Linked DNA regions of Homo sapiens. The protein of the gene in region 1 purifies or fractionates together with the protein of each later gene. This does not show direct contact. Each region holds a gene or a part of one and is shown in the gene's direction. Other genes may lie near its edges.

Evidence for each region.
Region 2: the proteins of ARPC1B (region 1) and ACSF2 fractionate together in Homo sapiens (co-fractionation; one large-scale study listed by BioGRID). This does not show direct contact.
Region 3: the proteins of ARPC1B (region 1) and POGK purify together in Homo sapiens (affinity purification with mass spectrometry; 3 studies listed by BioGRID and IntAct, with this or other methods). This does not show direct contact.
Region 4: the proteins of ARPC1B (region 1) and IFI16 purify together in Homo sapiens (affinity purification with western blotting; one study listed by BioGRID). This does not show direct contact.
Region 5: the proteins of ARPC1B (region 1) and ELAVL1 purify together in Homo sapiens (affinity purification with western blotting; one study listed by BioGRID). This does not show direct contact.
Region 6: the proteins of ARPC1B (region 1) and ASL fractionate together in Homo sapiens (co-fractionation; one large-scale study listed by BioGRID). This does not show direct contact.
Region 7: the proteins of ARPC1B (region 1) and BLVRA fractionate together in Homo sapiens (co-fractionation; one large-scale study listed by BioGRID). This does not show direct contact.

What each region holds. Positions count from the first base shown.
Region 1 is NC_000007.14:99,388,230-99,392,336, forward strand, and holds part of ARPC1B (actin-related protein 2/3 complex subunit 1B), read left to right. Parts: coding exon 1-32; intron 33-1,675; coding exon 1,676-1,783; intron 1,784-2,663; coding exon 2,664-2,870; intron 2,871-2,948; coding exon 2,949-3,024; intron 3,025-4,107. UniProt on the Homo sapiens protein: Component of the Arp2/3 complex, a multiprotein complex that mediates actin polymerization upon stimulation by nucleation-promoting factor (NPF).
Region 2 is NC_000017.11:50,457,218-50,461,324, forward strand, and holds part of ACSF2 (medium-chain acyl-CoA ligase ACSF2, mitochondrial isoform 2 precursor), read left to right. Parts: intron 1-3,459; coding exon 3,460-3,655; intron 3,656-4,024; coding exon 4,025-4,107. UniProt on the Homo sapiens protein: Acyl-CoA synthases catalyze the initial reaction in fatty acid metabolism, by forming a thioester with CoA. Has some preference toward medium-chain substrates. Plays a role in adipocyte differentiation.
Region 3 is NC_000001.11:166,852,572-166,856,678, forward strand, and holds the end of POGK (pogo transposable element with KRAB domain), read left to right. Parts: exon of another isoform or gene 1-13; 3' UTR 14-3,788; downstream 3,789-4,107.
Region 4 is NC_000001.11:159,043,903-159,048,009, forward strand, and holds part of IFI16 (gamma-interferon-inducible protein 16), read left to right. Parts: intron 1-1,394; coding exon 1,395-1,562; intron 1,563-4,107.
Region 5 is NC_000019.10:7,995,353-7,999,459, reverse strand, and holds part of ELAVL1 (ELAV-like protein 1), read left to right. Parts: intron 1-4,107. UniProt on the Homo sapiens protein: RNA-binding protein that binds to the 3'-UTR region of mRNAs and increases their stability.
Region 6 is NC_000007.14:66,074,095-66,078,734, forward strand, and holds the start of ASL (argininosuccinate lyase), read left to right. Parts: upstream 1-1,724; 5' UTR 1,725-1,762; exon of another isoform or gene 1,763-1,944; 5' UTR 1,945-1,987; coding exon 1,988-1,999; intron 2,000-4,640.
Region 7 is NC_000007.14:43,757,330-43,761,975, forward strand, and holds the start of BLVRA (biliverdin reductase A), read left to right. Parts: upstream 1-1,350; 5' UTR 1,351-1,405; intron 1,406-2,687; exon of another isoform or gene 2,688-2,781; intron 2,782-4,646. UniProt on the Homo sapiens protein: Reduces the gamma-methene bridge of the open tetrapyrrole, biliverdin IXalpha, to bilirubin with the concomitant oxidation of a NADH or NADPH cofactor. Does not reduce bilirubin IXbeta.

The sequences.
Region 1 (4,107 bases):
TCCATCTGTTATTTCGAGCAGGAGAATGACTGGTGGGTACCTAGGCAGGGCCAGAGTGGGCTGTTAGGGACCGGGGGCAGGACTAGAGTGTCCCCGGGAAGCACCAAATGGGATGTCAGGACCCCTGTTCCCATCACCCTGGGGGAGTCCATCCTCTCCTCTCTGGGCCTCATTCATGAGGCAAGGGCCTCTCTGCAGCGTCCGGATGTTCTCACTGCCAGTGACACCCACCACACCAGAAACACATCTGGGGGCACCTCACTAAGCCCTGCACACACATTAGTCCTGACTTCCCTGCAGCTCCGTGGACTGGGCATCGGTCACTGTCCCCACTTTACAGATTAGCAAAGGCCCTGTAGCAGTCACTTTCTCAAGGCACCACTCACGAGCTCGCAGCCACATCTTGTTCCTTTTTTTTTTTTCAGATGGAGTCTCACTCTGTCACCCAGGCTGGAGTGCAGTGGCACGATCTTGGCTCACGGCAGCCTCTGCCTGCCGGGTTCGAGCAGTTCTCTGCCTCAGCCTCCCAAGTAGCTGGGATTACAGGCACCTGCTACCATGCCCGGATAATTTTTATATTTTTAGTAGAGATGGGGTTTCACCATCTTGGCCAGGTTGGTCTAGAACTTCTGACCTCATGATCCACCCGCCTCGGCCTCCCAAAGTGTTGGGATTACAGGCGTGAGCCACCGTGCCCAGCCAATTTTTTTTTTTTTTTTTTTTTTGAGACACAGTCTTGCTCTGTCGTCCAGGCTGGAGTGCAGTGGCACAATCTCAGCTCACCGCAACCTCTGCCTCCCAGGTTCAAGCAATTCTCCTGCCTCAGCCTACTGAGTAGCTGGGACTACAGGCACGCACCACCACGCCAGGCTAATTTTGTATTTTTTAGTAGAGATGGGGTTTCTCCATGTTGGTCAGGCTGGTCTTGAACTCCTGACCTCAGGTGGTCCTCCTGCCTCCGCCTCCCAAAGTGCTGGGATTACAGGCGTGAACCACTGCGCCCGGCCATATATATATTTTTGAGACAAGGTCTTGCTCTGTCGCTCAGGCTGGAGTGCAGTGTTGTGATCATAGCTCACTGCAGCCTCAGCCTCCTGAGCTCAAGTAATCCTACCACTTCAGCCTCCTGAGTAGCTCGGACTACAGGCCCAAATCATTTATTTATTTATTTTGTAGAGATAGGGTCTTGTCACGTTGTCCAGGCTGGTCTTGAACTCCTGGCCTCAAGCAATCTTCCCACCTCAGCCTCCCAAAGTGCTGAGACTACAGGTGTGAGCCATGATTGCCAGTCCACGTCTTAGTTTTTAATCTCCCCTGCATGGCTGAGGGCAGAGGCCAGCCAGGAGCATCTGAGAGACCCAAATTTGCATCCCACCATGGCCAGTTAGTAGTTGTGTGACCTCTGGTGATGGCATCACTTTGCTGAGCCTGCTCTGAGGGTGACTGTGTGGCCTAAAGGATAGAGGGCACAGAGTTCCCACTCCAGAAGCGACACAGCACATCCCTGCCGCCCCAGGGCCCTGACGGCCTTGTGGGCTGGCAATGCCCAGTCGCCTCTCTCCTGGGTCTTTGGTGGGCTGCAGGGAGCAGTGGGAGCCTGGAGTCCCTGGTGCTGAGGTCCATGAGTCCCACCTGCCTGTCCCTCTCTCCCTGTCTGCCTGACCACCGTTCCCAGGTGGGTTTGCAAGCACATCAAGAAGCCCATCCGCTCCACCGTCCTCAGCCTGGACTGGCACCCCAACAATGTGCTGCTGGCTGCCGGCTCCTGTGACTTCAAGTGTCGGTGAGACAGGGCGCCATGGGGGAGGGCGGGGCTGACGTCAACTGACTGCTGACATCATAGCGGGGAGCCGCACCTGAAAGCTCTACACCCCAGCTTCTAGACACATTCCAGACCTGCTACCAGTGGATGACCTGGGCGTCGGTTGAAGGTTCTAGTTCCTGGGGAACCCTTCATGTCTCAGCTGGATGGGCCTCTGCCCACCTCTTTTATTTTTTTTGAGCTAGGGGCTTGCTCTGTTGCCCGGGCTGGAATGCAGTAGTGCAATCATAGCTCACTGCAGCCTCCAAATCCTGGACTCAAGCGATCCTCTTGCTTCTCAGCCTCCCAAGCAAGACTACCACGCCCAGCTAGACAGGATTTTTTTTTTTTTTTTGGAGACGGACTCTCGCTCTTTCGCCCAGGCTGGAGTGCAGTGGCGTGATATTGACTCACTGCAACCTCCGCCTGCTGAGTTCAAGCGATCAAGCGATTCTCCTGCCTTAGCCTCCTGAGTAGCTGGAACTACAGGCGCATGCCACCATGCCCGGCTAATTTTTGTATTTTTAAATGTAGAGACGGGTTTTCACCATGTTGGCCAGACTGGTCTCGAACCCCTGACTTCAAGTGATGCATCTGCCTCAGCCTCCCAAAGTGCTGGGATTACAAGCTTCAGCCACCATGCCCAGGCACCTGTTAACCCTTTAAAAAAAATTTTTTTTTTTTTTTGAGACAGTCTCACTCTGTTGCCCAAACTGGAGCACAGTAGCGCAATCACAGCTCACTGCAGCCTTGACCTCCTGGGTTCAAGCAATCCTCCCGCCTCAGCCTCCTGAGTAGCTGAGAGTACAGGTGCGCACCACCATGCCTGGCTACTTTACCTCTACTTTGCCTATCCCGGTAGGATCTTTTCAGCCTACATCAAGGAGGTGGAGGAACGGCCGGCACCCACCCCGTGGGGCTCCAAGATGCCCTTTGGGGAACTGATGTTCGAATCCAGCAGTAGCTGCGGCTGGGTACATGGCGTCTGTTTCTCAGCCAGCGGGAGCCGCGTGGCCTGGGTAAGCCACGACAGCACCGTCTGCCTGGCTGATGCCGACAAGAAGATGGCGTGAGTCGAGGCCATCCCCAGGGGAGGAGGTGAGTGCAGAGGAGTGGGACACCGTGACTCACAGCTCTCTCCCCTCAGCGTCGCGACTCTGGCCTCTGAAACACTACCACTGCTGGCGCTGACCTTCATCACAGACAACAGCCTGGTGGCAGCGGTGAGGAATAGGGAGGGGAGGGAGGGTGTGTGGTCACAGCAGGCCTCCGAGAGAGCCCAGCAACTCTCATCTCCTCCCTCCTTTCTCCTGCCTCCCTCCTTTTTTTCTTCCTTGCATTCTCTCATGTACCAGAATTGGGCAGAACAGGTTGGGTTATGCTGCAGTAACCAAAAGTCCCTGGCTGCAGTTGCTTAACAGAGTAAAGATTTGGCCAGGTGCGGTGGCTCACACTTAAAATCCCAGCACTTTGCGAGGTTGAGGTGGAAGTATCACTGGAGGCCACGAGTTTGAGACCAGCCCGGGCAACACAGTGTGAGACCCTTGTCTCTACAAAAAGTTAAGAAATTAGCTGGGTGTGGTGGTGCACCTGTAATCTCATAATCCCAGTTACTTGGGAGGCTGAGGCAGGAGGATAACTTAAGCATGGGAGGTCGAGGCTTCTGAACTGAGCTATGGTCGTACCTCTGCACTTCAGCCTCGGCGACACAAAACCTGTCTCAAAAAAAAAAAAAAAAGAGCCAGGCCCGGTGGCTCACACCTGTAATCCCAGCAATTTGGGAGGCCAAGGAGGGCAGATCACCTGAGGTCAGGGGTTCAAGACCAACCTGGCCAACATGGCAAAACCCCATCTCTACTAAAAATACAAAAATTAGCCGGGTGTGGTGGTGGGCGCCCATGGTCCCAGCTGCTCGGGAGGCTGAGGCAGGAGAATTGCTTGAACCCAGAGGCAGAAGTTGCAGTGAGCCAAGGGTGAGCCACCGAGACTCCATCTCAAAAACAGAAAAAAAAAGATATTTACTTCTTGCTCACATTTTATGTCCAGTGTGGGTGTTGTGAGGTGCTCTGATGGAAGCTGTCCCCAGCATGCTGTCCCAGATGCCACGAGGGAGCCGGAACCTGCGGAATCATGCCCTGGGTCTTAACATTTCTGCCCACATTTTATTGGCAGGTGCAATGGCAAGGCCACGCCTAATGCAAAGGGCGAGAGTTCGGGGTGTGCGGTTCCTCCAGGTGTCCAGGAAGGGCACTGCTCTCCCTCCCCTCCGCCCACATCTGTCAAGTCCCTTTTCACCCCTCTGCAAA
Region 2 (4,107 bases), on another chromosome or scaffold:
CAGAGCAAATTCTGTTCCCATAGGAGAAGATGTGCTCTGGCTTCCAGACCTTCCAGGCCATCATTGGATATGGGCTAGGCAGTCCCTGGTGGAATCCAGGTAGAAGCTCCCAGGGCCCCCTAGGCTGAGGACCACACCATTGGTGGCCATCTCTGGCCAGGAGGGTGTGGAGGTTTGGAGGGACATGCAGCATCTTCCTTCATCACTAGTGGGATGGGAAGAGGACCAGTTTTCCACTCTAGACCTTGGCAGATCTCAGTAGACCCTGAGGGCCCACAGATTTCATAGACATATGGAATTGAATGAAATTACAAGGGGGAGAAGCAGGAGGAGCTGAGGTTGGTAGTTGAGATGTGAGGAGTGTGGGGAAAGAAACCCCACTTCTGTCCCATGTACCCCTAGGAGAGAGTAGGTTATCTTCTTTTGGTTCTCTTCTTTACCGAATAGCCTTAATCCGAGAGTTGAAATGATTTGTTTACATACATTTCTCTTCCTACCACACTATGGCTACTTAGAGGGCTGGGAGCAGTGTCTTATCCATCCCTGTATCCCTAGTACCTGGCACAGGGCTGGCACATAGTAGGTGCTCACTAAAGCTTGCTTGAATAGATGAGTCAAAGGCGGTTGGGGTGGCTTAGATGGCCAAGAGAGTGGTTGTCAAAGTGTGATTCATAGAATCCTCACCCAGTCCCACATCAGAATCACATGGGATTCTGTTAAAAATTCAGATTCTCCCGGTCCACTCCCCAGAAGCTCTGCAATGAGTAGGCATTGCAGGGGCCCAGGAATTTGCATTCTTTGTGAGATCCTGAGATGATTCCGAAGCAGCTCTCCATGGACCACATCTTGAAAAACTGTCACTTGGAGGAGGGAGTGACACTGGTTGAGAAGGTTCCTTCTGATGTCCCTGGAGGGACAAGGGAGGGATCAGCCCATAAACACAGATCCTGGTTCCAACATCCATCCATCCCTCTTCACTTCATAAATGATGTGGGTCCACTTGGGCCCATGGGTGGAGAAAACCCCAACCCCAGAACCTGGAGTTTGGGGGCTCTCCTCATTCTTCCAGGCCCAATGTCCTCTGCTCTGGACCCTTTGGTTTCAGCTGGGTTCAAGTTCCAGTCACCCTCCCGTTCTCACAGCACTCCCTTTCATTTTCCATGCCCCAGCCACAGAGACAAGCTCTCCTCTGCTGGAAAAGCCCTCCTCTCCCTTCTCTGATGATTAATACTTCCTCACCCTTCAGCTGTCAGCTTAGGCATAAATTTCTTAAGGGAGTTTTCCTTGGAGCCCCAGGTGATCCCAGATTCCGTCTTACAGGTGCTCCTAGGACCACGGCCCCTTCCTTATCTCAGCTTTCTAAACATACATTCATCATTACCAAGGTTGACTGCACTCCTGTCTTTCCCACCAGACCCTTATCTCTGCAAGGACAGGGACTGTATTTGGCTTTGTTCATTTTTTACCATTGGGCCCTCTCTGTGGTGGGTGTTTCCTAAATATTTGTTGGAGGAATAAATGTTGGCTAAGTACTCCGTAGGGCTGAGGAGGCCATAGTATGGGTGGCCCCAGGGCCCAGGTCTAAGAGAGGCTGCCTTAACCCAGCTTTGAGGGGACAGACAATGGGCCTCAGATGGGCTGGGATTCCCCCCACAGTCTGCCTCATGGCTCCCATTTCCTGATTTTCTAGGCTGTTCCCACCCACGAAGAGCTAATATGTCTAATTTCCCCAGAGACAGGGAGCTTCTTAGAAGAAGGACTGTGGCTTGTTCTATCTCTAGTCCTAGCATAGTACTTGGCACATACGGGTGCTCACTGAATGTGTGTCGAAAGCATGGTCGATAAATGCCATGAATGGATGGTAAAATGCCTGTCGACTACAGAGCACTTCACCATTCGCAAAGCACCTTTGCAGGCCTGTTCACGCTTGAACGTCATGGCCCTGCTATGGAATAGGCAAGGCAGTCTCTTCATCCCCTTCGAGCCAAAGAGTAAACAGATAACTTGCCAGGTCCCACTGGGTTTTATTGGTTTGTTGTTTGAGACAGGGCCTCTCTCTGTCACCCAGGCTCAAGTGCAGTGGTGCAACCATGACTCACTGCAACCTCTGCCTCCCAGGCTCGAGTGATCCTCCCCCTTCAACCTCCGGAGTAGCTGGGACTACAGGCATGCGCCACCATACCTGGTTAATTGTTTAAAATGTTTCATAGAGACAGGGTTTCCCTATATTGCCCAGGCTGATCTCGAACTCCTGGGCTCAAGCGATCCTCCTGCTGCAGCCTCCCAAAGTGCTGGCAAGACTTTACAGGTGTGAGCCACCATGCCTGGCTCAGGTGCCACAGTTAATAAAAGGTGGGGAAAGTTAAGTGGAGCAGTAATGGAAGTGCAGGTTCTCCTCCAGCTTGACGTGCCCTTACTTAGGGGTTGTCTCTTACCTGGCAGGGCTGGGAGGAGATGGGTAGTTCCTGAAAGGCCGATGGAGAAAACTGGGGAGTAGGTTACTACTCCCGTGACTGCCCAGGCCTCTACCCAGACCTGTTTCCACCTGTGCACTGAAATGGATAGGTAGCCACATGTGAGAGGTGAAGAGTCCCGGCCCCAGACTAGAACCCGAGCCAGGTCCCGAGCTGGCTGCTTCCTCCACTCAACATCCCCAGCTCAGTACTCTCAGGCTCTTGGTGCCCCTTGCTTATCTGACATCTGGCCCCTTTGCCTTAACTGGCTGCTTTCAGCCAGCTTCTTAATTCCCTGGAGACAGAAACTGCCTGCCTGCCTTGTGACATCATCTGAGAGTGGGAGCTGGAGCCCAGGTGCCATTTGGCATATAGGGGCTTTCTTCTTCATCTGCAGGTGCCCAGGATCTTTAGCACCTGGCACTGAACACCTACAGGCCTGTGGAATAACAGGGGCCGCCCAGCTGCCTCTCTTAGGGCCTCCATCTGCCCTCTCCTTTATCCCTTTCCTATTCTGTCTTTGGCTTTCAGGCCCTCAGGAGAAAAACTGGCCCACCAAGGAGTCTAAAATCCTAAGACCTTGGATTCAAGCCCAGGGTCCAGGCACGCTTCCCTGGTTCCTCAGGAAGGACCCCAGTGACCTGTTTATTCTCCAGGAGGCAGGGGCTAGGGGTGAAGGCATGGTCCTGCTTTGTAAGATCTGTCTGTCTGCACAGGCAGGCTCTCCCAGGCTTCACTATGGCATCTCACCTTTCCCGGGAAGGCGAAGGAGGGCCCTTTGCTCCAGCTTGGTGTAACCTTGTCCCTGTCCTGCTGCCTTGGGATTAGGCTTGAGGTTGGGAAAAGGGTCTGGGGGATTTTAGGCTTACAAGAAGATCTGGAGGAAACCTAGTGGTCTCTAACACATTGTCAGCAGCCTACCCCCTGGCTTGGCTGGGTGTGCCATGCCCTTGGTTCCAGGGAGACTGATCTGGGACAGTCAAACCCATAGCTCCTCTCCCTACAGTTCCAGAGAGGTGGATCGCATGGTCTCCACGCCCATCGGAGGCCTCAGCTACGTTCAGGGGTGCACCAAAAAGCATCTTAACAGCAAGACTGTGGGCCAGTGCCTGGAGACCACAGCACAGAGGGTCCCAGAACGAGAGGCCTTGGTCGTCCTCCATGAAGACGTCAGGTTGACCTTTGCCCAACTCAAGGAGGAGGTGGGTCCTGACCTGGAAACCTCAAAGTGGGCAAGTACTAGCTCCCAAGCTGCCCTAGCTGGGCAGAACCAGGAGCGTGGGCACCTGGCTATGGGGCAATGTGCTAGGGCTGCCAGAGAACCCCGAGGGATGGCAGGAGAAGGAGACAGGACTGACGCACAAGGGGTCCAATGCCTCCTGTATCAGCAGCTCCTGGGGCACCTGTTAACTATGCAGGCCCCAGGGCAGACCCACTGAGGCTGGGAATCTGCCTGTCCCTTTGTCCCCAGTGACTGTGATGAGAACTCCGGGCTAAGGGCTGAGGGTGGGAGTCTTGGGCCCCTTCCTGCTTGCCCCCTTTCACCCCTTGCGCCCCATCTTTTACACTAGGTGGACAAAGCTGCTTCTGGCCTCCTGAGCATTGGCCTCTGCAAAGGTGACCGGCTGGGCATGTGGGGACCTAACTCCTATGC
Region 3 (4,107 bases), on another chromosome or scaffold:
CTCTGTTTTCCAGCAAATGGAACTCTGATTTAAACAGCTGGGGATGAAATTCCTCAAGATGATTATTCCTGAAAGTGTGGATGCGCTGGATGCGCAGGGAACATCAGGAAAAGGCCACGGGGCTCTGAACAGCCCCGGTCCAGACAGCAGCCTGTACATCCATCCCAGGACACAGCCCAGCCCCTCCCCACACCATACAAGGTATCAGAAAAGTCTAGGACCTATCATTTCATCAGAGACATGATCAGAAAAGAAACTGCTTCTGCCCCATTTCTTGTTTTGGAGATTACTCCATCTGTCCATCAAAAGAAACCTGTAAATATGAAAGAACAAAGGTTATTTCCTGGAGAAAAGACAATTTATTCAACACCAACGAGGGACTCATCATATGGGCACAACTCTGGTGTCCTTCTATGGAGAAAACCTCAAGTAAAGTTTTATTCTGCCTTTGAAAATGCTTCCAAAAGTAGACCCTGTCCCCACACAGGTCAAGACTACAGAGAAGGCTTTGTAGAAATGTGTCACCTATGTACACCTGCTACTTACACATTTCCTCTTTTGGAAAAATGAGATACTTAGAATAACAAGAAAATTAAGACATACTGGCCTGGTGCCAGCAGATGGCTTTTCTATAGACAAACTAGGTTAGTGTGGAAGATATAGGTTAAAATAAACTATGCTGTTTTATTTATCTTCCCAACCTGATTGGCAGCTAGACTTTTTTAGGGTCTCATTTAATGGCCCTGTTTTTTTCATTATTATATTTAATGATAGGGCAGGATTTCGTATGCAAGCTCTTGTTTCTCAGGCTGCCTGCAGAAGAAGTCGCTATAAATTATCTGTTGTCTACATGGTACAAGGCCCATTGACTCATCTGATGCTTGTTTTGTTAATTTCTTTAATATTTTTATCACGGGGCAGTGGGAGGGCTTGGGCTTTTAGCCACAGCTGTTTTAAGACTTCTGATCTCCTGCCCTGCAGGAATAGGTGGGAAGTCATTGAATTTTTACACTATAGTAATTTGCATTCCCACATAAGTTTGAGTGTTACGAAAACATTCCTTTAAAGGGATCTGTGCTACACAAAATATGCCAGGACCTCACAGACAAAGCCATTGCTAGAAATGTCATTCCAATGATCAGATCTGGAAACAGGCTGCCATAACCACTTTTCCTTCTTGTAGACTCAGCTCACCTGTATATTTAAACTGTTCTTGGCATCTTGAAACACCTATTTCTACTCAGGTACTCATTGTCCTGTTACTGATTCACCTTTCTGATCCTTTTCAACCAGTTTTCCCCCAAGGGGGGAAATTTTACTTAACCTCTAGTATTTGAACAACTCAATATTTGAATTGTTGCCCCATTTGCTTTTACCTGTACTGTATTCTTGGTCATCTCAAATGGCGTCTAAACCCAGCTACTTTGCATTCCAGAAGTTTCCATTCCCTCCAATTCCACCTAATTTTTCATCTGTCCTAGTTACTGGCTCTTTCTTCATGTCTTATTTCTCTTGCTTTGGGAGCTTAAAAGATTTTACAAGACCTAATTTTGGGTTCCTTCCTTGGAGCCATAGTTACCCTGCCAAGAAGAGTAGAAAATGGGTTCAACTCCTGTTTCGCTCCACCAACACCTCTGTGAGTCTCATCATCAGCTGAGCGATGATGCCTTACAGGTTGCATAGCACTGGAACTTTCCTAGAGTAACGGCTCTGCTGCCAGGGTTTCTCTGGGCTCATTCTTCCACTGACTTAATTATGATCTATGCCTAACAGAGCCCCAGTACAACTATTTTGCAGAATGGCTGTTACCCTAGAATTACTATAGCACATATTGAGATATAGTTGTACTCCCTAGTAGATAGGAACTGACCCCAACAATAAACTTTGATAATAAAGACAATAGGCTATGGTGATTTTATTTCTTTACCTATTAGCATTGTGAAAAGTTACATTCAAGGTATTGGCTACACCTTATTCTCCATCCGGTTTGGTACCAATATATTACATCTTTCAGTCAAAAAGTGTTCATGAGATGCAGTGTAAGTAATATTGGTATCTGTGAAGACACAGGGAAGAACGTGTGCAGTGGGGCAAGTTTGACATAAATAGCTTTTTTCCTCAGTCATGTTTTGTATGCTCTCAGCAGTGGTACATTACCAAAATCACATGAAAGAAATCCCATAAAGGGATCTGAATTTTAAATGAAAGTATGATGAACCCGCAAGTCTTAATTATGCACTTTTAATAAAATTAGTCCTGACAATTTACAGTGCCCATAAAGTAGTAGTTGATTCTCCAGGAATAATCTGGCAGTGTTATTTTTCCTTTTCAACCCATCAGCATTAAATGCTGAGCCACTCTCCAAGTCTGACCCCTAGACTAAGCTTCCTTACTCTTACTCTTCCTCCCAGAGGCATTTTGGAATGAGTCAAAGGCATGGTAGGACACGGCATTTACCTGTGGTCATCACTTCAGGCAATGGAAAGGAAAAGTGTTTGTCCTTGGTTGATCAGAGAAGTGGGTGATAAGAACGTGCTAAATAACAAACCTGCACACTTGTACCTCTGAACCTAAAATGTTTTTTTTTTAATTCAGAACAACAAAAGAACATGCTAAGCGAGTCCTCCCACCTGCCTGGTAAAATACAGCCAGCTTTATCACACCTGGTTTTGCACAGTGATAAATTCCTGCAGGAAAAAATAAGTTTTATTCTAAGTCTGAAATTATATGGTTTCCAACAGCTTTTTCCCTCGTTAAAATAATTATTTTTCTACATGATGCTTGATAATAAGCATTTGTTTCTTAACCTAATTAGAGAAGCGATTGCACTCGAGTCCCCACAGCTGGCAGTGGTGTTACAGATGGAACCAGCCTTTGGTGGACAGAGTTCAGATGTTTCAGGGGCTCTTGTGAAAATGCTAAGTATTACTGTTTCTACCTTACTGCCCTGCACTTTACCCCATCATCTCCCCTCCTTAGAAAATGATTTCATAGGAAAATTGGCATGGAGAGCAGATAGTAGAGTGTAGACCTGAAATACATGAGGCAAAGGCAGTCTTCCAGCATTCTATGGTCCCACCAGGTGGGTAGGTGACTAGGAATTCAGGCCAGGTCCTAGAGAGTAGTGAGAAGTTTTCCAGTTTGCAGTTTCCTCTGTGCTGTATGTACAGCCATACAGCCTATGGAACCTGACATTGCAGTGGGCAGCAGGACACGGTCAAGGCTCCTAGCTGCCTCTCCATCTATGGAACTATGAAATTTCACACATATTCCCTAGGCAGCATTAAGGCCCAGGTATATTGAGTAGTCCAAACCAAAAAACTATATTCGAGTATCAGTTTAAATTCTTCCAAGCCCTAAAAATTCTTACGTAGTTTCTCACCTAAAACTAATGGCTTGTGCCAAGAACTGAAACTAAGCTATTGATTTTTTTTTAAGAAGTCTTAATCTATACATAAGAAATTACATACCTGGCCAGGTGCAGTAGTTCAGGCCTGTAATCCTAACAAACACTCTGGGAGGCCAAGGTGGGCAGACTGCTTGAGCTCAGGAGTTCATTACCAGTCTGGGCAACATGATAAAACCGTGTCTTTACAAAAAAAAAAAATTTTAAATTAGCCGGGCATGGTGGTGTGAATCTGTAGTCCCAGCTACTTAGGAGGTTGCGATGGGAGAATCACCTGAGCCCAGAGGTCCAGTCTGCAGTGAGCCATGATCACACCACAGCACTCCAGCTGGGGTGACAGAGTGAGACCCTATCTCAAAAAGAAAAGAAAAAAAAAAAAAAAGAAATGGCATACCTTAGTTGGAATCTGCTTTTTAATCTTTCTCATCTAGTACATTATTTTGAGAAGTCTCTGCCAAGCCCTCATAGAGCAGGCAATTTTTGTATTTCTGTAGAAGGCAATATTCCTTATAATGTTTAATAAACAACAAAGTTTTCTCCCAAAAGGTTTATTTGTCACATTTAAAGTACAAAATCAAATACACAGATCCAGATATGTGAACCATATATACATATCTATACAACCATTATTTAGACTTTCACAAACCTATCTATACATTCTAATTTATCTATCAACACTATCCCTTAAGTAAAAAGCAACA
Region 4 (4,107 bases), on another chromosome or scaffold:
ATTGCTACACATGGCAGATCTGAAGAGAGGGGCTTCTCTCCTATTATGCTTCCTATATTACCTCCATACAAGGTTTCCATCAACAAGGGCATCATAAAGCATGAAATATCTGTTCACCGGAGCAGACATGCAAACCCCTAATAGATCGTGGAAAAATAATAGCAACAAAGATTTATTTATTGAGCATTTACTGAGCTCTGGACTCTAAAACCCATTCTTTGTGCACATTACCTAAATTATTCTTTATAACACCATAAAAAAATGCTATGGCTAGTCCCATCTCACATGTGGGAAAACTGAGGTGCAAAGAAATCTTCCTCAGGGTCACACAGATAGTATTAGAGTCAGGATTCAAATGCAGCCTTATTGAACTTAAAATGTTAACATTTAAAATGTGAACCTTTAATGAGCATAGATTGAATCCACAGTAGGTGTGCAAATGTTAAAATGTCTGCAGTTTATTTTTAAACAATTTTGAAAATACAGTGTTTTGTTTGGGGTTTATTTCCATAGTCCAGGTGCTCAGTGGTGGTCAGAGACTGTTCTAATCAAGAAGCTGTTCTCCATGTGAGCTCACTACAAGCAGTTCTTTTGTGTACCTCTCTATCAACAATTGCCACTTAAAAAATTAGGTTACTGAATGGGAAAACTGCTAAAATAATGTGCCACATTGGCCAAATAGGATGAATATTTTTTGGACTTCCATTGGTTTAATTAAAAGTAGTCAAGGTATGTGATTTTAGAGATATTCCCCAATTTTACTTGAAAAATGTATAAAAATATAGCTAATGGGAATGCTTTAGGTGGAATATTAAATTCTTCTGAATACAGCTAAAAACTCTGAAAGATTCTGATTGCCTGATCCATACTGTAGTGATCATAGAACCTTCCCTGAGGAATTGTGAATTTGAGAGAATCTTCTTATTATGGCTATGATCAGAGATCCCTAAAGGATGGAGATCTGGGTTTCTTGTATGCTGAAGAGCACTTGAGAGAGACTGGTTTGTGTATCTAATTGATGAGAAAGGCCTAGTTAATAAATGTCCATAAATGTAGCCAACTTTATTGCAAGCCATGCTGCCCCCAAAATAGCCCTAAGAGTTGTACCTGACCAAATAACTCAGTCCAGTTTTACAGGACGTGAAGACTGAGTATTCCATCCCCAGACAATGCAATTTCAGTTATCTGAGTTTTTAATCCTGACTGGGATGAGAGAAGGCTGAGTGATAGAAGTATCTGAATATGTGGTATTATTCCTCCTGCAACTCAGGGAAAAACAGAGAAACTGGCAAAGTGAACATCCTATTTAAAAAAGAAAAAAGGAAAAGATGTGTTTCATCTGATCTTGAAAAACATTAACTAGAAAAAAAGAACAAACATCTATTTTCCTTTAGAAAAGTGAAGACACAATCTCCAAAATGAATGACTTCATGAGGATGCAGATACTGAAGGAAGGGAGTCATTTTCCAGGACCGTTCATGACCAGCATAGGCCCAGCTGAGAGCCATCCCCACACTCCTCAGATGCCTCCATCAACACCAAGCAGCAGTTTCTTAACCACGGTACAAGTTCCCTCTTCCCAATACATTCCCCTCACTACAATGTAATGACAAGGATTAACACAACCTTGAAAGCACCTCACCAATCCCCTACTACATACAATGCTTTAATTTAACCAAATCAGTCATTTATTTATCAAGTGTGTATTTTGAGGTCCTATCCAAAATTAAAATTCTATTTTTATCATCTCTATTCCATAGCAGGTATAATTAGATATCTTTTTAATTTTATTTTCCTTTTGGCTTACCTTTTTGTTTTTCCCTCAATACACCACGAAAATAATACTTTAAGGTAGAACAAGGTGGGAAAAAACAGAGCCAACCATAACACTATCACTGATTCTTTCTCTTTCATTTATTATAACTCAAATAATACCATCTTTAAAAATTTAGGAAAAGAAGGTACATAAGCAAAAATAATTAATTTTTAACTATCAGAAATCTTTATCTAATGCCACATTTCAGTACATGGTCTTTCTGACTTTACACCTTTCATTATGTATATACAAAGAGTCTTATTATATTCTCTCAGAGTAAATCACATTACGCATATTTTTCTATAACTCATGCTTTTTATTAATATATCTTGAACTGCCATTCAACCATACAATATAGATTTAAATTACTTTATTGTACCAGAAAAATTGCATGGTTATTCCATACATTATAAAATGATCCTACGTTATTTGGCTTATGTTGTTTCTAGTATTCTGTGAATTTACAATGAACATAGTAAGAACAAATGTCTCTCAGATCTTCTTTCATTACCCTCAGAGTAGCTTTATAATTATTTCCTTAGGTCCTGTGCACCTTGTGTCAGGGTACTAATGTCATGGCTATTGTAAGGTGATTTGATACTGATTAACTTCATTGGGAACGGGTTTCCTAATGTTATGGAAAATTGGCCACATTGATGAGTTTTGTGTGTGATATGCGTTATTCCTGGTTTTGATTTGAAAACCAGAAGGATAACATTTTTATATTTGATATCTTCTACCATGTCTCCCTTTAAATAAACAACATACAATGATTTGAGATATGAACAGGAATAATTGCTATTTTTTCCTGAATAACAATTCCACCAGTATTATTATTACCAATATGTTCATCCTCTACATTCCAGTTTCTTTGCAATCCTTTCTCTTTTGCTCTCTCACCATACATCAGAGGTTAGTTTCACTATCCATGCTCTTAACCACATCAAGGGTTTTGATACTTCCTTTGATATCAAATTTTTCCATCTCAATTCTGTCCCCAAATAAGTTCAACCACGAGGTACCAGTCTCATCTATTCCTTGAGCAAGTTCTCACTAATACCCTCCTCCCAGAATAGATCATATTTTCTCATTGTTTGCCTTCATAGGTACCTTTCTATTTCTTTAGAGCATTTATCATAGCTATAATAAACCTATGACTTTCTTCCCTACTCAGCAATAAATGTAGGTTATAGATACCCTTTCCTAGGAGAAGATAACACAGAGGTGGGAAAGTGAATTTACACTTGTGTGTTATCAACCCTTATCCCAGCTTGCCTTTTGTTCTGCCCTGATACCTCTGTATGACCTACAATCCAGCGCTATGGGGCCTACACCCAAGACGAATGGGCAGGGAAGGTATGGGCAGGGAAATACTGACCCACGGCAACTTGAGGGATAGGGAACACTAAGATTTACATTACTATTCTCCAATGTTGTTTCTCACCCAAGCCCCAAGCTACCCCCGGCCCAGGTTGCGGACCCGAGCACCATCCACACACGTCAGTTGAGAACAGGCTTTCTACATACAGGTTTTCTCAATTTTTTAGACAGTCTTTTTTTTTAGTTATTAATTTCAAGATTTCATATTTCCCCCTATATAGTCTTTCCTGGTTCTTCTTGGGCAGAACTAGCTGCTTGTAACTGTTGCCATCTTGGGACTTACCATCAAGGCCACAGGTAGAGCCCATGTGTAGTCATGAAAATCTCAGGCCCACTGTCTCTCTGTTACTGTAATGACATACATAGACATCATAAGACAACTACTCTGTCCATGCATACTGGCTTGGAAGTGACACTTTCTAAGACCTTGCCTGCCTAAATATGCAGCACAATCATTTCTACTTGCATAGGAATCATTCTGCTGCTCTGAAAGCTCAGGATCCAAGGCAGACTCATCCACCTAAACATACACCACGTAGTCATTTCTTCTCTGGGATCCAGCCATCTTCACAGGAGGCCTGCAAAAATGGTGTCTGACCAATCAGTCTGTGATTCGCAACGTAAGCCGGGAATCCTTGCTCTTATACATCACAGCTTCTCCCAAGTAGTTTTTCTATAATAGAGTTCTTTCTGACTTTAATTCAAAGCCGGAAACAGACTATTACCTTTGATTTATGCTGTTACGTATCCTGAAGTGAACAGTACACAAGGGCATAATTCATGAACAGGGTAGGGTGGAGGAGGATTTATTCTGAGGGAAAACAAATGCTTGCACTTTTAAAATATTATTCAAACAAAGATTATAATTTCATCATCCAAACTGGGCTACTGTGATGACAGTTTAAGATTTC
Region 5 (4,107 bases), on another chromosome or scaffold:
GGTTTACAGCAATGGCATGGAGGCACTGAGAACTAGAGTAAGTAACCTGTTGTCCTGGGGGAAGGTGGCCTTTTATTTTTTATTTTTTTGAGACAGTCTCACTCTGTTGCCCAGGCTGGAGTGCAGTGGCGTGATTTTGACTCACTGCAACCTCTGCCTCCCGCGTTCAAGTGAGTCTGCTGTCTCAGCCTCCTGAGTAGCTGGTACTACAGGCATGCACCATCACGCCCAGCTAATTTTTGTATTTTCAGTATAGACAGGGTTTCACTATGTTGGCCATGCTGGTCTCAAACTCCTGACCTCAGGTGATCCGCCTACCTCGGCCTCCCACATTGCTGGGATTACAGGCATAAGCCACCACGCCAGGCCAGGAAGGTAGCTTTTTAAAGATGAGCCAGCCTGGTGTAGTGGCTCTCACCTATAATCCCAGCACTTTGGGAGGCCCAGGTGGGAGGATGACTTGAAGCCAGCATGGGCAACAAAATGAGACCCCTGTCTCTAAAAAAATTTAAAAATCAGCCAGGTATGGTGGCACACACCAGTAGTCCCAGCTACTTGGGAAACTGAGGCAGTTTGAGGCTGCAGTGAGCCGTGATTATGCCACTGCACTCTAGTTTGGCAGCAGAGCAAGACCCTTTCTCAAAAGAAAAATAAGTAAAAATAGAAGTGAGCTGGGAGGCCAGGCATGGTGGCTCACACCTGCAATTCCAGCACTTTGGGAGGCCAAAGTAGGAGGATCACTTGAGCTTGGGAGTTCAAGACCAGCCTGGGCAACAAAGAGAGACCCCCATCTCTTTAAAAAAAAATACTAATTTTAAAAAATGAGCTGGGAAGTGAAGGAGAGGACACTAGTGCCCTGCAGAGGGAACAGCCAAAGCAGAGGCCTGTAGCATATTGGCAAGAAGCTGGAGTGAGCGGGAAGGGAGGGTGGCGACTGAGGCTGGAGAACCACCTGGGTCCGATTGTGAAGGGCCTTGCCAGTTTGACAGTTGCATTGTCATGACAACTTGAGGCCTGGCCCTGCCACTTATTAATGGCATGCCTGACCGTGAGCATCATCGTGTGACCGCCGAGCCTCAATGGGTGGTGACCACTGACAGGGAATACCAGAGGGGTGAGCATCTTGATTGCAGGACAGTGCAGGCCTTGCACCTCGAGAGACAGAAGTGGCTACGACTTGGGAGTCAGTGATAATTGAGTGGTGACAAGGCCCAGTTGTGGTTGGAGCTTGTGGGATAGAAGCTGATTTGGCCCAGGATTGATGATGCAGATTTGGAGAAGGTCAAGGGAAGGGCCTCCAGAGAGTGGGGTGGGGGCCCAGAAACGTCATGAAACTGCTTTGCAGGGCAGGTTGTTGGTTTCTCCCGTGTTACTAGTTGACCAAGAACTTGACCTGCAGGGGCTGCTCAGCCTTGACTCAGAGTGTCAGGAGGAACAGGGCCGCAAAGCAGAAGTTCTCTTTTTAAACCTTTTAAAATTTATTTTTATTGTGGTTTTGTTGTTGTTTTTGAGGCAGGATCTCACTCTGTCGCCCACGCTGGACTGCAGTGGCACAATCATAGCTAACTGCAGTATTGACCTCCCAGGCTCTAGTGATCCTCCCAGCTGAGCCCCCCGATTAGCTGGGATTGCATACAGGTGTGCATCACCATTCCTGGGTAATTTTTAATTTTTTTTTTTTTTGTAATGATGGCATCTCTCTGTGCTGCCCAGGCTGGTCTTGAACTCCAGGCTTAAGCAGTCCTCCCACCTTGGCCTCTGAAAGCGCTGGGATTAAAGGCATGAGTCGCCACACTCAGACAATTTATTTTTAAATTTGCATGTAGGAAAATTCATTTTTTCGAGTAGAGTTCTCTGAGTTTTGACAAACGGATAAAGTTGTTTGATTACCACCATAATAAAGATTGGAAAGTTCGCTCTCCCACAAACAGAAATACTCCCTCCTCCTGTCCCTGTGTAATCGACTTTTCCCCTCACTCCCTAACCCCAGCGACCACAGATCCATCCCTATGGTTTTGCCTTTTCCAGGAAGGCACAGAAATGATGTGGCAAGATGTGTTTGAGATTCACACAAGTAGCATGAATTGGTGATACCTTTTATTGCCAGGTGGTATTCTGTTGTATGGTGTATCCCAGTTTATCCATGAATGGCTTGAAGAATATTTGGGTTGTTGTAGTTTTGGATGATTATGAATAATGCCGCTCTGCACATTTATATACAGATTTTTGTGTGAATATAGATTTTCCTTTCTATTGCCTTAATACTAGGAGTAGGATTGCTGGATCCCATGCTAAGTGTATATTTCACCATAAGAAACTGCCAATCTGTTTTCCAAAGTGGCTGTCACATTTCACATTTTTGCATTCCCACCAGCAGTGCATGAATATTCTGGCTTCTCCACATCCCTGCCAGCACTTGACATTGTCTGTTTTGTTGCTGTTGGTTGTTTTTTGTTTTATTTTGCTTTAGCCATTCTAATAAGTGGGTAGCGGTGTCTCGATGTGGTTTTAATTTGACTAATGATGTTGAGCATCTTTTCATGTGCCTGTCTGCCATCCATATATATTCTTTGGTATAGTATCTGTTCAAATCTTTTGCCATTTTTGAAACCAGGTTGTTTGCTCATTATGTTGTTTTTGGTTTTTGGAGATGGAGTCTGGCCCTATCGCCCAGTTTGGAGTACAGTGGCGCCATCTCGGCTCATTGCAACCTCTGCCTCCCAGGTTCAAGCGATTCTCCTGCCTCAGCCTCCCCAGTAACTGAGATTACAGATGCCCACCACCACGCCTTGCTAATTTTTTTTTTGTTGTATTTTTGTAGAGATGGGGTTTCACCATGTTGGCCGGACTGGTCTCAAACTCCTGACCTCAGGTGATCCACCCACCTCGGCCTCCCAAAGTGCTGGAATTCCAGGCATGAGCCAGCACACTAGCCTGCTTCTGTTTTGAGAGCTTAAAAAAAAGTGTTCTGGGCCAGGCGTGGTGGCTCACGCCTGTAATCCCAGCACTTTGGGAGGCCGAGGTGGGCAGATGGGCAGATCACGAGGTCAGGAGATGGAGACCATCCTGGCTAACACGGTGAAACCCCGTCTCTACTAAAAATACAAAAAATTAGCTGGGCATGGTGGCGGGCGCCTGTAGTCCCAGCTACTTGGGAGGCTGAGGCAGGAGAATGGCATGAACCCGGGAGGTGGAGCTTGCAGTGAGCGGAGATCATGCCACTGCACTCCAGCCTGGGTGACAGAGCAAGACTCCATTTCAAAAAAAAAAAAAAAAGGGTTCTGGGTTGGGTGAGGTGGCTTACGCCTATAATTCTAATACTTTGAGAGGCCAAGATGGGAGGATCACTTGACACCAGGAATTCAAGACCAGCGTGGGCAACATAGTGAGACCCTATCTCGACAAAAAATAAAAAATTAGCCAGAAGGCTGAGGCAGGAGGATTGCTTGAACCCAAGAGTTTGTGGCTGCAGTGAGCTATGATTATGGCATTGCACTTCAGCCTGGGCAGTGGAGTGAGACTTTGACTCAAAAAAAAAAAAAAGTGTTCTGACTACAAGTCCCTTTTGCAAATGTTTACTCCAGTTGGTGGATTTTAATTCTCCTAGCAGTATCTTTCACAGAGCAAAAGTTTCAAATTTTGATGATATCCAGTTTATCCATTTTTTTTTTTTTTTAACGAAGTGGGCTTTTGGTGTTGTGTCTGAGAAATCTTTCCCCAGCCCAATGCCACAAAGATTTTTCTCCAAGAAATTTTATGTTTTTACATTTTAAAACAGAGGTCGGCAGATTTTTTTTGTGTGAAGAGCCAGATGGTAAATATTCTCAGCTTTTTTGGCCATACGGTTGCTACTACTTAACTGTGTTATTGTAGTACAAAACTATCTATAGACAGACAATACATAAACAAATGAGACAAGCTGTATTCCAATAAAACTTTATTTATAACAACAGGCAATGGGCCAGATTTGTACCACAGGCCATGATGTGTGTTTCAGGAGGTCCACTTTTCCCAGACCTAGAGGATACCACACTGTGGACAGTAAGCCTGGGACAGCCATTGTCCATCTCACCGTCCATGAAAGCAGAATGAGGGAAAAAGCAAAGT
Region 6 (4,640 bases), about 33 Mb from region 1:
TCCCCTTCTTCCCTGGGCAAATTCCCCCCATCTTCCAAGACCCAATGCAGAAGACAGGTTCATTAGAAGCCCCTTCAGGGTACTTCCAGTGCCTAGAATCCAGCCTGACATTTTGGTTGAATAATTAATTAATCAGATCAAGGACCTCTTCCCTGAGTACCCAACATAGCCCCCCTCCCCAACGCCTGTGCTCCCTGCACACCTCCTCCATGCTATGTTGGAACTTCTTGAAGTCAGGCTTCATTTCTTTTGTTTCGTTTCTTTCTTTGTTTTCTCTTCTCTTTTTCTTTTTCTTTCTTTCTTTCTTTTTTTTTTTTTTTTTTCGAGACAAGAGTCTCACTGTCGCCCAGGCTGCAGTGCAGTGGTGCCGTCTCAGCTCACTGCAGCCTCCACCTCCCTGGTTCAAGTGATTCTCCTGCCTCAGCTGTCGGAGTAGCTGGGACTACAGGCACCCACCACCACACCCGGCTAATAGAGACAAGGTTTCACCATGTCAGCCAGGCTCATCTCGAATTCCTGACCTCAGGTGATCCGCCCGCCTCAGCCTCTCAAAGTGCTGGGATTAAAGGCGTAAGCCACTGTGCCCGGCTGCGTTTCTTTTTTCTTTTCTTTTCTTTCTTTCTTTCTTTCTTTCTTTTTTTTTTTTTTTTTTTTTTTGAGACAGAATCTTGCTCTGTCACCCAGGCTGGAGTGCAATGGCACCATCTCAGCTCACTGCAATCTCCGCCTCCCGGGTTCAAGAGATTCTCCTGCCTCAGCCTCCGGAGTCGCTGGGATTGCAGGCACCCGCCACCGTGCCCGGCTAATTTTTGTATTCTTAGTAGAGACGGGGTTTCACCACCTTGGCCAGGCTGGTCTCAAACTCCTGACCTCGTGATCCACCCGCCTCGGCCTTCCAAAGTGCTGGGATTACAGGCGTGAGCCACCGCGCCCGGCCTCCGGCCGCGTTTCTTTTCTTTTTTAGAGGAGTCAGGCTGGAGTGCCGTGGCACAATAGCTCACTGCAGCTTCGAACTCCTGGGCTCAAGTGCTCCTCCCGCCTCAGCCTCCTGAGTAGCTAGGACTGCAGGCGTGCACCACCACGCCCGGCTTTTTTTTTATTATTATTAATTTTTTTGTAGAGACGGGATCTTGTTGTATTGCCCAGGCTGGTCTCCAACTCGTAGCCTCAAGCGATCCTCCCACCTCGGCCTCCCAAAGTGCTGGGATTACAGCTGTGAGCCACCGCGCCTGGCACAGGCTTCATTTCTGATGGTCCTTCCTTTTTCCTTGATGCCTTTCTCTGTACCTGGCACATAGAGGTGCCTGGTACGTGTTTGTTGAATGAATGAATGAATGAGTGAATGAGCGAACATGCCATTTCACCTTATATATCTTGTGAACCTGCCAGGCCCGGGCCTGATGTCATAGCCTCTACCCCTGGCCCGAGTCTCCAGTCCCCTGCGTGTCTGCTGACCACAGCACGAACGCCAGCGCACTACCCTCCTCAACCCCAGCCCAGGCCCCTTCCCCGTCGGGGTCCCCCCAACCCTTTCCCCGCCCGCTTCCCCGCCCCGGGGCCGCTTAGCCTCCAGCTCAGCGGGAGGTATCCCCGCCCACGGCCAGGATTGGAGGATGGAGGCAACGCCCACCCCGCCGGGCGGCCTCCTATTGGCGCGGCCGTCGCCAGGGGTGGGGACAGGACCGGCGGCTGCTGACGCCATCCCGGCCAGAAAAGCCCTGGCCAGTGGCGGGCGCGACACTATCCGTGCGGCCAGGCGGAGGTGAGTGCGCGGCGGCCGGATGGGCGGGACGGGCGTGGAGGACGCCGAGCACCGTGGCGCGCGCTCACGTCCGCGTCCCCAAGGGCTGCGCTCCCTCAAGCGCAGTGCCCAGAACTCGGAGCCAGCCCGGCCCGGGGGACCCTGCTGGCCAAGGAGGTCGTCAGTCCGGTCTTGTCTTCCAGACCCGGAGGACCGAAGCTTCCGGACGACGAGGAACCGCCCAACATGGCCTCGGAGGTGAGTGGGACCTCGGGGACTCCGGTCCTCCTAGCCTCCAAAGGAGAGAGTGGGGGCGCCAGACCTGCCTCGGGCCACCCTGCTGGGAATCGCCCTCCAGGAAGCAATTTTGAAAATTACCTAGGAAGCCTGCACCCCCAGCCCTCCCGGGCGCATCATCTGGAGCCCAGCAGTCACCTTTACCAGGACTCACCAGTATCCGCAGGCAGCCCTTGTGGCAAACCCACCAACCCACACTACTAGGGGTAGAGTGGCTCTGCCCTCACCTCACAGTGATGCCTGCCTGGCCAGGAAAAGTGGCTCCCAAGCCTTCAGCCTTCCAACTCTTCCTTCCTTCTTACCACGTGTCCTCCTGTCAGGTCCCACCCCACACCACATCCCTTCTCCTGCTAGAGCAATTGTCCCTGTTTATAGAATAAAGCTCAGCCCCTAAGTGTTCTTGTCCTTGACTGTGGCATGTGGAAAGAGCCAGGAAAAAGGGGACGTCGCCTCGTGGCTCCAGCAACCCTGGTGCCTGGTCCCTTCCTGTCTCACTGGACCCTGCCTCTTAGGGTCAGTGGCTCCTGGCCTCTCCTCCTGACCACTGAGATGCTGGATTCCCAGGCAGAGGTTTTCCTTCCTTGGGCCATAGTTGATTTATCTGGCAATGGGGGTAATAATAGCTGTCGGCCTCACTCTGTAAGGCACTAGATTATGAGGCCATTGCTTTGGACCCTTCAGGTGAGAGGGGCTGTTCGCCTGATGCTTGATGAAGGGAACTCCGGGAAGCAGGAGGTCTGGGTTCCAGGCCCTTTTGGCCTTCATTAGCTAGCAATTCACTTCCTCTTTCTCAATGCCCTGCAAGCTCAGTGCCCTGCAAGCTTCTGGGTCATGGCAGGGGGGTAGGGCCTGGACTTTGGAGCCAAACAGACTTGGTTTCTGTACCAGTCACTTGAGCCCTTTAAACCTCTTTCCTCATTTGTGAAATAGGGGTAATATTGCCCACCTCATAAAAGGCCGTAATAACATATGTGAAATCCCTAGCACAGGGCTGAGCAACAGTAGGTGCTCAATAAATGGTGGCTAACCACAACAATACTGATATTTCTACTTTGGGAGGCCGAGGCGGGAGGACTGCTGAAGCCCAGGAATTCCAGACCAGCCAGGGCAATGTAATGAGACCCTGTCTCTACAAAAAGATTTTGAAAATTACCCAGGTGTGGTGGCGTACACCTGTAGTCTCACAGGAGGCGGAGGCATGAGGATTGCTTGAGCCCAGGAGTTTGAGACTGCAGTGAGCATGATCTCACCACTGCACTCCAGCCCAGGCAACAGAGTGAGATCCAGTTTCAAAAAAATAAAAATAAAAAAACCTGGCAGGCATGGTGGCTCACACCTGTAATCCCAGCACTTTGGGAGGTCGAGGTGGGCAGATCACCTGAGGTCAGGAGTTTGAGACCAGCCTGGCCAACATGGTGAAACCCCGTCTCTACTAAAAATGCAAAAATTAGCTGGGTGTAGTGGTGGGTGCCTGTAGTCCCAGCTATTCGGGAGGCTGAGGCAGGAGAATCGCTTGAACTCGGGAGGCGGAGGTTGCAGTGAGCTGAGATCGCACCACTGCACTCCAGCCTGGGCGACAAAGCAAGACTCCACCTCAAAAAAAGAAAAAAAACCCACAAGTCCCAAAACCAAAACTGGTATTTCCCATGTACATTCGACCTTAACTGTTGCTCATTCAACCCAGCCCAACTCAGTGCCCCATCCCCTGGCCCTGAAGAGACCATTCTGGCCCAGATGTGTCCTGGCTTGGAGTAGCACCTTCTGCTACCACACTAGGCCTCCACTCTCCTCAGTGCCCAAGGGGAGGCACCTCACTCTGATCTCCCTGTGGGGTCCTCTTATGCCTGCCAGTAAGGATAGGAGTTTGGTTCTAGAGCAGAGTGGTCTGGCTTCCAACAAGCCCAGTGTTCTAGGTGACCTCAGGTTGCCCCAGGCCTTCCTGTAGGTTGGCACTAATTGGTTTGGCTGCAGCTCCACTTATTAAGTAGTTATTTTTATTACTAACAACCTAGGCAGGGTGGCCCAGGAGCCCGCTGGGGGAGGCGGTGCCAGGCTCCTGGCTGAGGGGCAGGCTGGCCCCAATTCTGACTGGCTGGCTCCAGTGATCAGGACCAGGGCCCCACGTGGTGCTTTGCTGGAGATCTAGGCTTGGTGGGGCAGCTGTGGGGTAAGGGGCAGGACCAGCTCAAAGATGGGGTGGGGGCGGAGGCTGCCTCTGCAGGGCAGAGTCCTTTGGCAGTCGGGACTGTTGGGCATAGAGGAGTCAGCTCACAGCTCAGGGCCAGAGCACTGGAGAGGTCTCTGGGGTGCATACAGGAACCAGGAGTGGAGCTGAAGCATGTCCTATCCCCTGCCAGCCCTCCCTTAGTAACAGCTGGCATTTCTCGAGTCCTTCCTGAGCACCAGGCACCGTGTTATGTATGCAATTTGCAAATATTATCTGATTAAATGCTCACAATAAGGCTATCAGAGAGGTACTATTATTATCCTTATCTTATTATTATTATTATTATTATTTTTAAGAAGGAGTCTTGCTCTGTCGCCCAAGCTGGAGTACAATGGCGCCATCTCTGCTCACCGCAACCTCTACCTCCAGGATTCA
Region 7 (4,646 bases), about 56 Mb from region 1:
GAGGTTGTAGGGGTAACAGAGGAGCAGATCAGGCAGGGCTTTGGGTTTTACTCTGAGTTTGGGAAACCACTGGGAAGGTTTTGGGCAGAGGAGGAATTTGATCTGGCTTTCTTTTTTTAAGGTCACTCTGGCTGCTTTATGGGGACAGGCTGCAGGGATATCAGGGAAGAGACCACTGTCATGACCCAGGTAGCAGATGATGGAGGCAGAGGTAAGAAGTGGTCAGGCTCTGGGTATGCTAGGGAGATCCAACCAACAGAATTTTTGGGCCCTGGAGGTGGGATGTGAGAGAAAGGTTTCTGAAACAGCAAGGTTTCTGGCCTTGACAACTGGAAGATGGAGTTGCCATCGAGATGGTGATGCTATGGGGAAGAGATCAGGGGCACAGATTTGGATGTGTTGAGATTGAAATGTATTTTAGAGATCCAAGAGGAGGTATTAAGGAGGCAGCTGGATAGAGGAGTATGGAGTTCAGGAGGCAGGTCCCGCCTGGAGATAAAAATTCAAAGCCAAGCCTTCTCTCTTTGCACTCAACAAAACCTCACTTAAACAGGCTTGTCAGGTCATGGAATACGGTACTAGAACTCTTTGTTGGGGAAAATGCCAGTCAACCTTACCCGTCAGAACGCTGCCTTTAAGATCAGAGATCTCTTTCCTTCAGCCTAATCCACCCCTCTCCCTGTTTTCTCCCCTAGCCCCACTAGGCTAGAAGCTCCCTGGCTTCTCCCACATCAGGATCCCCAACAAACCCATTCCCAGGTGGATAAGAGCCCAGGCAGTTCCCTAGACCACGTTCACTACTTCCTAGCTACCCAAGAGCAGGACATCGCAGACACCGGCCTCCTGGAATATTCCCTCCGCTCCTCACATTTACAGGAAGGACTCAGGTAAGCCTCGGCGCCAGTTCAGTCGGCCCGGGGCCACTAAATACCAATGGGATCCAGTGGGTTCTACGTGGTGAGTGGGGGGCGGATAAGAGAGATGCGACACCCCCCGGGCCTGCCCCCCCCACGCCGGGGCCAGGCACACCGTGAGGGGGCCAGGCACACCGTGAGGGGGCCCAGCCACTTCCATACGCCCTCCGGTCGGCCGGCACCCACCACCCACCCCTCGCCACCAAGCTGGGTGCAGAGAACAGGGCAGGCGCACGGACGGTTCTTACGGCCCCAGGCGCCAGACCCAGGGCACAGAGGCCAGGATCTCACGCGCGACCGCACGAGGCCGGGACCCTCCCTCCCCTTCCGTCCACTCCCTTCCCCACCGCCTCCGGTCCCCTCCCGGTCTCCGCCACCCCGCTTCGGGGCCCCCGCCCCCCAGCCGGGCAGCCAATCGGAGCTGGGATCCCGCCCCGGTCCGCAAAGCCGGTGGCGCCCGGAGGCTGCACGGAGAGCGGTGCCCGCGTCAGGTGAGGCGCGCGCGGGGAACGGGGGTCGCGCGCAGGGGAGCGGGGGTCGCGCGCGGCTTCCATAGAGCGCTAGGGCCTGAGCTCGAAGCCCCAGGCCCGCAGGAGGCCCGGGCCCGCGGCCGCCAGAGCCGGGACGCAGCCTGGGCGCCGCCTGCCCCGCCCCGCCCCGCCCGGGCCCGGAGTGAGGACGCGGTCGGAGGCCCAGCAGCGCGGGTCCCGGCAAGGGGCTTTCTCAACTACACAAAAGACAGTCTAAAAAATTAAGTCTCCATTTCGGTTAAGACTGCCCGTAGTTTCGGTTTTTATGTAGACCCAAGAGGGCAGGCTCGGCGTCCGCGTGCCGCGTAGTCCGGCGGCTCCAGGAGCGCGAGCGGCTGGGCCCGGGCGTAGCCACCGCAGGGCCGCTAGCTCGGCCGGGACCCGCCTGGGATGCCCTGGGGTCTGCTCCGCTGGGGCGAATCCTGAGGCGCCACGCGAGGCACTTGGCCTCTCCTAGCCCCGCTTTCGTTTTTGGAAACTGGAAACTATCACTTATTTCGTAGACGGTGTGAGGGTTACATGACAGTGTTCTGTAAAGTGCACTCTACATATGAAGTGCTCAGAAATATGGCTAATAATGAGGGTATTTATAAACTACTTAAATTATAAAAAGAATGAGACATCAGACTTACAGTTTTGGATACTAATTTTTTTCACTTAACGTTCATTATGTGATAGGAGTTTTCCATCCTATTATACCGCTGTGCGATCTGATCTTGGGCACGTTAACCAACCTCTTGTTGCCTCGATTTTCTCACCTGTAAAAGTGGGGGTAATCATAATGCTTACTTAGTAGGATAGCCCTGAAGAATAAGTGACTTAGCGAACATAAATAGCTTACAATAGGGTTTTCAGCATGGGAAGGATTCAGTAAATGTTAGCTGTCATCATCACCACCTACAAAGGAAGCAATACTGTGCTGAAAGTTTTTCCATCATTAATGTAATTTCTATAGTACGATTCCCAAGAAGATATTAAAATTATGGAAATAAAGGTATTGGTATATTCCTAATTATTTCCTAAAAGATTGTATTGATAAATATGCTCATCCTTCCCTTAACGGGATGCATTCCAGAAAAACAAGTCAAATGTTAGACAAAGTATCAGAAGGGAAATTCTGTAGCCAGAGAGCTAAAAATTACAATAGGGTCTCTAATTATACTTCAACTTTTTTAGGAATAATTCTCAGTGTGTTTTCCCACATTTCATATGTAATTTTTTTTTTTTTTTTTTTTTGAGACAGAGCCTCGCCCTGTCACCAGGCTGGAGTACAGTGGCGCGATCTCGGCTCACTGCAACTTCCACCTGCTGGGTTCAAGCAATTCTTCTGACCTCAGGTGATCCACCCGCCTCGGCCTCCCAAAGTGCTGGGATTATAACAGGCGTGGCATGAGTCACCGCGCCCGGCCGATCTTTACTTTTTTATTCTTTGTACCCCCTGCCTATCCAGTTAGCATGTGATTAAAGTCAAAGATTTGCCACTTTGGGCCACATCTATTAATTTTCATCTTTGTTATAATTGTATTTAGTTTTTGATCTACACTGCTTATTACTCCCAGTCATTTTTTCTAGAACTGAAAATCTGGTAAAATACTCAAAATTGCACTGACTTCTATGTAGAGGCGACACTCCATCAGAACCGTGGGCTGACAGGGAATCCCACTGTGCAGGAGCTGCGCGCATTTTCATTTCTGATTCTCTTTGGCGTATCCAGGACTCTGATGACATGATCATATATTTATCAGTAGTAACAGGTTGGGCCATTTGTTTTTTGTGGTAAATCATATATTTAAGATTTTAGAAATAAGTTGATAGCCATGTATTTTGGAATTTGAAAAAGACATTGCATTACTCAGCTTCAAATTAAGCTTTAATCAAATAGTGAAACTTTCCATTAATGGACAGTGTATACCTTTTTGTGTATTTAAAAAAAAAAACACTGAATATAGTGCCTTTGTGACAGGGGAGCTTAGTTCCTGACAATGTCCTCTTGAGTCTTTTTTTTTTTTTTTTGAGATGGAGTCTCACTGTGTCGCCCAGGCTGGAGTGCAGTGGCGCCATCTTGGCTCACTGCAACCTCCGCCCCCTGGGTTCAAGTGATTCTCATTCCTCAGCTTCCTAAGTAGCTGGGATTACAGGCACGCACCACCATGACCAGCTAATTTTTATACTTTTAGTAGAGACAGGGTTTTGCCATGTTGGCTAGGTTGGTCTCGAACTCCTGACCTCAAGTAATCCACCCACCATGGCCTCCCCAAAGTGCTGGGATTACAGGCGTGAGCCATTTCACCCGGCCTCTCTTCCGTCTTTGAGCTGTGAGGAAATAGCTACATTACATGAGCTGCTAGATCTGCCTTATGGTCAGAAATGAAGGTTGAACTCTCAGGAACAGTGACATATATACACACTGATATTTCCAAAGTACAATGCCCCAAATTGATCCACAAAGGAATTAAGGTCATTTGCAACAAAATCACAGAATAGTAACAAATAAATAGAAGATAAATATGGCCAGGAATTGAGATGAGAGAAAGTATAAGTACAAGAAACTATTCCAGGGGAAAAAAAGAATGAAGTGTTTCAGTGTTATCCAATAGAATTTTCTGTGATTATGAAAATGTGCTATATTTAATTAATTTATATTCCAATAGCCACTCTGTGTAGCGGCTCCCTTATAGGTCATTGCAGGCCTATATTTTTGTAGTTGAGTCCCAAATTTGTTTCTAGAAAGGTAAACTTGGTCAGTTACATGGTTCTTGTCTTTTGAAAGTAAAACATACATGGCAACTTCATTCATTCATTCATTCATTGATCCCCCAAATGTTAATGGCCTTGAAGGAAGCAGAGCCTTTCCTGATTCTCAGTTATAGGGAAAATTTTCTGTGGACTTCATTATCAGAGCACCTTGATATGTTATTGCCCTGTGAAAGTCTGTTCAGTTTGGGGCTAGGAGGGATGCAGTCAGTGAAAGTGGCATAGTTTGTAATGTTTTTTAGAGTTTTGAATAATTATGTTAACTAATCTTTATAGAAAAGTTTAAAGTGTACAGAGAAGCAAAAAGAAAGTAGTCACTAAAAGTTTCACCACTTAGAGACATAATTACTGGTAATATTTTGATGTATATATTTCCAGACTTGTGTCCCATGTAGCTATTATATTTTTCTCAATAGATCCCAAAGTATCCAACTCCCTCCAGGGCAAG